2 linked regions of the Homo sapiens genome follow. The protein of the gene in region 1 interacts with the protein of each later gene in a pairwise test. Each region holds a gene or a part of one and is shown on either strand. Other genes may lie near its edges.

Evidence for each region. Proteins that work in one complex are often made in the same cells at the same time.
Region 2: the proteins of NEK8 (region 1) and RGS20 interact in binary tests that used the Homo sapiens proteins (3 or more experiments, as listed by UniProt).

What each region holds. Positions count from the first base shown.
Region 1 is NC_000017.11:28,731,734-28,735,482, forward strand, and holds part of NEK8 (serine/threonine-protein kinase Nek8), read left to right. Parts: intron 1-2,249; coding exon 2,250-2,455; intron 2,456-3,038; coding exon 3,039-3,271; intron 3,272-3,506; coding exon 3,507-3,638; intron 3,639-3,749. UniProt on the Homo sapiens protein: Required for renal tubular integrity. May regulate local cytoskeletal structure in kidney tubule epithelial cells. May regulate ciliary biogenesis through targeting of proteins to the cilia.
Region 2 is NC_000008.11:53,953,824-53,957,572, forward strand, and holds part of RGS20 (regulator of G-protein signaling 20), read left to right. Parts: intron 1-252; coding exon 253-487; intron 488-3,749. UniProt on the Homo sapiens protein: Inhibits signal transduction by increasing the GTPase activity of G protein alpha subunits thereby driving them into their inactive GDP-bound form.

The sequences.
Region 1 (3,749 bases):
GCTGGAACTACAGGCGCCCGCCACCACTCCCGGCTAATTTTTTTGTATTTTTTAGTAGAGACGGGGTTTCACCATGTTAGCCAGTATGGTCTCGATCTGCTGACCTCGTGATCCGCCTGCCTCAGTCTCCCAAAGGCCTGGGATTACAGGCGTGAGCCACCGCGCCTGGCCCCAATTTTTTTTTTTTTTTTTTTTTTTTTTTTTTTTTTTTTTTTGAGACGGAGTCTTGCTCTATCTTCTAGGCTGGACTGCAGTGGCGCAATCTAGGCTCACTGCAAGCTCCGCCTCACGGGTTCACGCCATTCTACTGCCTCAGTCTCCCGAGTAGCTGGGACTACAGGCACCCACCAGCATGCCTAGCTAATTTTTTGTATTTTTAGTAGAGACGGGGTTTCATCGTGTTAGCCAGGATAGTAAGATTTTTAAATTGCATTCTGGGGCTGGGCATGGTGGCTCATGCCCATAATCCCAGCACTTTGGGAGGCCGAGGTGGGAGCATATCTTGAGGCCACGAGTTCAAGACCAACCTGGCCAACATAGTGAGACCCATATCTATAAAAAAAAGAAAAATAAATAAAAAATAAATGTCATTCTGGTTCATGTAGAATTTAGATTTGAGGGTGACAGGAGTGAAAGGGACCATTTTGGAGAGTTATACAGTATTTTAGGCGAGAAATTATGATGACTATAGGGCAAGGGCTGTAGAGAGGGCACAGAGAATTGGATGGATTTACAGTATTGCAGAGGTAGAAATAGGATTTGCTTGTGTGAAATGGAGGAAAGATTCTAGGGCGATTTTCTTTTTTCTTTTCTTTTTTTTTTTTTTTTTTTTTTTTGAGGTGGAGTCTCACTCTGTCGCCCAGGCTGGAGTGCAGTGGCGCCATCTCGGCTCACAGCAAGCTCCACCTCCCAGGTTCAGGCCATTCTGCTGCCTCAGCCTCCCGAGTAGCTGGGATTACAGGCGCCTGCCACCACACCCAGCTAATTTTTGTATTTTGGGTGGAGATGGGGTTTCACCATTTTGGCCAGGTTGTTCTCAAATTCCTGACCTCAAATGCTCCACCCACCTCGGCCTCCCAAAGTGTTAGTATTACAAGTGTGAGCCATTTCGCCCGGCCTAGGCTGATTTTCAAGTGTCTGTTTTTTTGTTGTTTTGTTTTGAGACCATCTCACTTGGTCACCCAGGCTGGAGTGCAGTGGCGCAATCATGGCTAACTGTATCTTCAATGTCCTAGGCTCAGGTGATCCTCCCACCTCATCCTCCAGAGCAGCTGGGACCACAGAGGCTTGCCACCATGCTCAGCTAATTTTTTTTTTTTTTTTTTTTTGCGAGAGTGGGTTTCACCATGTTGCTCAGGCTGGTCTTGAACGCCTGGACTCAAGTGATCTACCTGCCTTGGCCTCCCAAAGTGCTGAGATCACAGGCCTTAGCCACTTGGCCCTGCCTCAGGTTTCTGATTTTAGCAGTTTCTGATTTTAATAACTGGAGGATGATGGTAGCATTTACTGAGATGGAAGAGACTGAGCAAGGAAAGGTTTGGAGGCAGGAATCAAGAGTTTTATTTTGAATTTGTTAAAATTTAGGATGACTGTGAGCCATTCAAGTGGATATCTGAGTCTAGGGTTCAGAAGAGAAGCCTGATCTGGAGGTAAAAATTTGAGACTTAGATCAGCTTATAGTCCACTCATTCAACAAATACTTATTGACTGCCTATTGTGTGCTAAATATTGGGCTATGCACTGGGGTTATTGTGGTGAACAAGAATGTTGTAGTCCCTGCTTTTATGGAGACTAACCACAGAATTAAAATAAAATAATATGAATGGCTTCTATTCATTGAGCGTTTTCTTTGTGCTGGTCACTGCACTCAGTGCCTTACATGCATTTTCTCATTCCATCCTCTCAACAACCCTGGGAGGCCCATTTCATTTTCCAGACAATGATGTCACATAATGTATCAAACCAGATAACTAGTAAGAGGAGGCACCCAGATTTGAACCCAGGCAGTCTGTGGGAACTTAGAGATCAAGACTAACTTTACCTCACAGTGCCTGTGGTGAAACTGAAGTCCCACACAGCTTGTAATCAGTTCTCCCTGTTCCCAAGTTCAGTGTTCTGTGCGCTTGGTTAGATGACCTCTCAGTCTAGAACCCTCTTCCAAGAGACATCAGTCACTAGGCTGCACCGCCCTGCCTGATATGTGGCTGGAGGCTTAGCTGGTAACCTGTCCCTGTCCTCCGTATCCCTAGGATTGTGCACCTGTGCCTGCGAAAGGCTGACCAGAAGCTGGTGATCATCAAGCAGATTCCAGTGGAACAGATGACCAAGGAAGAGCGGCAGGCAGCCCAGAATGAGTGCCAGGTCCTCAAGCTGCTCAACCACCCCAATGTCATTGAGTACTACGAGAACTTCCTGGAAGACAAAGCCCTTATGATCGCCATGGAATATGCACCAGGTGGGCCAGCCTCCTTACAGTGGCCTGGCTGGAGGGCCTCTTACCTCTGGGACAGGCAGACACAGATCTCCTGGCTTCCCTCCTTGGAATGGGCATGGCCAAGGGTTAGAGTTCTGGTCCCAATTATCTGACCCCGGCTAGCCCCTTGTCCTCTCTGGTCCCAGTGCCCTGTTCCATACATAAAAGGAGAGGGGTTGTTGGCTGGGCACGGTGGCTCATGCCTGTAATCTCAGCACTTTGGGAGGCCAACGCCGAGGCGGGCGGATCATGAGGTCAGGAGATCGAGACCATCCTGTTTAACACGGGGAAACCCCGTCTCTACTAAAAATACAAAAAAAAAAAAAAATTAGCCGGGTGTGGTGGCAGGCACCTGTAGTCCCAGCTACTAAGGAGGCTGAGGCAGGAGAATGGCTTGAACCCGGGAGGGGGGGCTTGCAGCAGTGAGCTGAGATCATGCCACTGCACTCCAGCCTGGGCAACAGAGCGAGACTCCATCTCAAAAAAAAAAAACAACAACAACAATGGAGAGGGGTTGTCGTAGGTGTGAGAAAGCCTGGATCTTGATTAGTCCCTTGGGCCACAGGCGGCACTCTGGCTGAGTTCATCCAAAAGCGCTGTAATTCCCTGCTGGAGGAGGAGACCATCCTGCACTTCTTCGTGCAGATCCTGCTTGCACTGCATCATGTGCACACCCACCTCATCCTGCACCGAGACCTCAAGACCCAGAACATCCTGCTTGACAAACACCGCATGGTCGTCAAGATCGGTGATTTCGGCATCTCCAAGATCCTTAGCAGCAAGAGCAAGGCCTACACGGTGCCTGGGCATGGAAGGGACCTCCAGGGCACTAGAAGTCTTGAGGGCCAGGACCTAACCCTGCCTCCTCCCCTCCCCCTAAAAAACCCTTGGCCCTTTGGCCCCTGTTTGGGTGGTTCTGCAGGAGGAAGCCCCTTGGCTTGCTTTGAGAAGAAGCTGTCCCCAAATGGGCTTATGCACAGAGCCCCTGGTCTTCCCTCCCTGCAGGGCTGTGATCCCAGCTTCTATCCTGCAGGTGGTGGGTACCCCATGCTATATCTCCCCTGAGCTGTGTGAGGGCAAGCCCTACAACCAGAAGAGTGACATCTGGGCCCTGGGCTGTGTCCTCTACGAGCTGGCCAGCCTCAAGAGGGCTTTCGAGGCTGCGGTGAGTGTATGCACCCTCCAGGGGACAACTGAGAAATCTACTGCCTCGCCCAGCAGCCCTTGGCTCAAGCCACCTCAGGTTTCTCCTCTAGCTGAGTCATGTCTCTCCCTT
Region 2 (3,749 bases), on another chromosome or scaffold:
TTAGCATTTATTCTAGCAACTTGGTTTGCAAGCCTTTTGGTATGCAATCCAGCAAAAAATTTGAAAGTATCATATTCATGTGTTTTTCCCAAAGGTTTGAGGAAATGCGAACAGTTCTTTCCCTTCCTAAAAGGGCCTAAATGCATATATTTTTCATTCTTGGAGGAGGAAAAGATATGTTCCTAATGATGAATTCCAATTAACTACCACTAACAGTTCCCTTTTGCCCCCTCTCTTTTGGTCTCCACGAAGCCCTGCTCCTACTCTGGAAGAAGTCAACGCCTGGGCTCAGTCATTTGACAAATTAATGGTCACTCCAGCAGGAAGGAATGCATTCCGTGAATTCCTCCGAACAGAATTCAGTGAGGAAAATATGCTCTTCTGGATGGCCTGTGAGGAACTGAAAAAGGAAGCTAATAAAAACATTATTGAAGAGAAAGCAAGGATAATCTATGAAGACTACATTTCTATACTTTCTCCTAAGGAGGTATGTGACCACGAGATGCCTTTTCCCAAGGCTGTTGGTAAAATTAACTTGGTGCAAAAGTAATTGCCATAGGCCGGGCACAGTGGCTCACGTCTGTAATCCCAGCACTTTGGGAGGCTGAGGCGGGCGGATCACCTGAGGTGAGGAGTTGGAGACCAGCCTGACCAACATGGTGAAACCCCGTCTCTACTAAAAATACAAAAATTAGCCTGGTGTGGTCATGGGCGCCTGTAATCCCAGCTACTTGGGAGGCTGAGGCAGGAGAATCGCTTGAACCTAGGAGGCAGAGGATGCAGTGAGCCGAGATTGTGCCATTGCACTCCAGCCTGGGTGACAACAGCAAAACTCCATCTCAAAAAACTAAACAAAAGTAATTGCCTTTTTTTTTTTTTTTTGAGATGGAGTCTCACTCTGTCGCCCAGGCTGGAGTGCAATGGTGCAATCTTGGCTCACTGCAACTTCTGCCTCCCGGGTTCAAGCAATTCTCCTGCCTCAGCCTCCAGAGTAGCTGGGATTATAGGTGCGCACCACCAGGCCTGGCTAATTTTTGTATTTTTAGTAGAGACAGGGTTTCACCATGTTGGCCAGGATGGTCTTGATCTCTTGACCTCGTGATCCACCTGCCTTAGCCTCCCAAAGTGCTGGGATTACAGGCGTGAGCCACCGTGCCCGGCCTCGCCATTACTTTTAACTTTTTCCAGAAAAATGCACAAAATTTTTCACCAATTTCAGAGGACATTTGGAGCCGCTCTGCAGGTCCACAGTCAAAGGGATCTGAATACCGTGAATGCGGGTGCAGCTGTTTTCTACATTTTGCAGTTGATGTTCTGGGTCAAGCTGAACATGACCAAACAGCTGCACCCACATTCACGGTTTTCAGATCACTTTGACTGTGGACTTGCAGAGGGCTCCAAGTGTCCTCTGAAATCTGTGAAAAATTTTGTGCATTTTTCTGGAAAAAGTATCCCCTGGAGTCTCCATTTGACACTGAACACTGTTTACAAATATTATACCCTAAGACGTTCCTTTAAATAAAATTATCTTGTTATTCTGAGAAAAATCTTGTATTTAGGTATCTTGATGTTATAGAGCAGCAGCATCACAGATGTGATACTGATGCTGAAAAGGTTTTCCCCAGGCTGGCTTTTTCATTCAAGAAATTATCAGATGAATGAGATTGGGCAAGTTTCCACCTGTCAGTGTTTCAGTTTCTTCAAATCTAAAATGTAGGAGGCCAGCCCTGGCACAGTGGCCAACTTCTGTAATCGCAGCATTTTGGCAGGCCGAGGCAGGTGGATCACCTGAGGTCAGGAGTTCGAGACCAGCCTGGCCAACATGGTGAAACCCCATCTCTACTAAAAATACAAAAAATTAGCCAGGTGTGGTAGCATTCATCTGTAATCCCAGCTACTCAGGAGACTGAGGCAGGAGAATCACTTCAACCCGGGAGGCGGAGGTTGCAGTGAGTAGAGATTGCGTCATTGCACTCCAGCCTGGGCAACAAGAGCAAAACTCCATTTCAAAAAAATAATAATAATAAAATAAAATTTAGGAGGTCAGATTGTTCTCAAATTGGGTGCCTTGTAGCTCTAATTATAAAACTATTAGTTATTTCCTACTATGTGCCGACAGGAATGTCAAGTTGAAGAAGCAGGGCCTCTCCTGTCATGGAGCTCCTGGAGATGTGGGCGGACAGACCAGGACCCCTGGCCACACTCTCAGCACTCACTGGGGCTCGGGGGTGAGCCATCCACAAAGGGGTGGGCGAGAATGAGAAAAATACTCAAGGAGGCTACAGATGGACCAAGGATAGTGAAAAGGAAATTTCCACAAACACAGCAGGATGGGGACATCCCAGGAGACAGGACCAGGCGAGCCCAGGGGAAGAGCATGAAGTTGTGTGATCACTGCAAGTATACACAGATTGTGCCAGAAAGGGAGGGTGCTTACCAAACTATTAGGGCTGGGGGCAGGCAGCAGGAGGAGACTTAGAGAAGGGGTAGTCGGAGAGCATGGAGAGGTTTGGGCATCATGGCGAAGTGTCTGGATTTTTATCTTGGGAAGCCCTTGGATTTTAGCCTGTTTATATCATCAAATTTTGATTTTTGAAAGACCAGTAGGGCTGCAGAGTGAATTTGGAGAAGACCAGGGGCAGAAGACGTTAGAAAACTAATTCAGGAGTCCAAAGGGACATGGTGAGGGCCTAGCTAGGCCAGCTGAAGACGCTAGAGAGGAAGAGTCGGATTTGAGGCAAACCCCACCGTCTCAAATGACTCCCATATGTCTGGTGTAGGCAGACCAGGTGGTGGGGTCGTTGGCTTACTTAATTTTGCGTCGTTACGTTTTGCTTTCTTAAGTTTGCGTTGTTAAATTGGTAATATTCAGTTGACATGTTTGAATACTGAGTCCAAAAAGTTATTTTCATTTTGAATTAATAAGGAGCAAGATAATTTTTGTCCTTTAATTTATGGCTTCCACATATTTTTATTTTGTCATGATTTTTTTTAAGGCAAGGTTTTTCATCAATCTTTTAAAGTATTATACAACCAAAAACAGGCCGGGCACAGTGGCTCACGCCTGTAATCCCAGCACTATGGGAGGCCGAAGCAGGCAGATCACCTTGTCTAGGAAGAGCCAAACATCAGAGCAATCAACATCTCCTATGGGCTTAGTGAAATCCAAGCACTTTGTCATTAAATCACAAAAAACCTAAGACATTACCATCATCATCATCCCCACTTCAGGGGAAGAGCTCACTAGGACACAGAGTTTACCTTGCCTGAGGCCCCACAGCTATACAGTGACAGGGATGGATTTTGTTTTGTTTTGTTTTTGAGATGGAGTCTCGCTCTGTTGCCCAGGCTGGAGTGCAGTGGCATGGTCTCGGCTCACTGCAACCTCTGCTTCCCAGGTTCAAGCGATTCTCCTGCCTCGGCCTCCCGAGTAGCTGGGATTACAGGCACCTGCCACCATGCCCAGCTAGTATTTTTTATTTTTAGTAGAGATGGGGTTTTGCCATGTTGGCCAGGCTGGTTTCGAACTCCACAGCGCTGGGATTACAGGCGTGAGCCACCATACCCAGGCAGGGCTGGAATTTAAACACAGGCATTGTCTGCCCTCAGGCCCTGTGATTGGAACCTTCCAGGGTTTTGAGTCAACTTCCACTTCACCCCTGTGCCCAACCCTCCGGGCAGGCCAGCACTCATCCCCAGAGCCCTGCCACTGTGGGCCAGCAGGGGAAGCCTGGGCCTCCAGGTGTCAG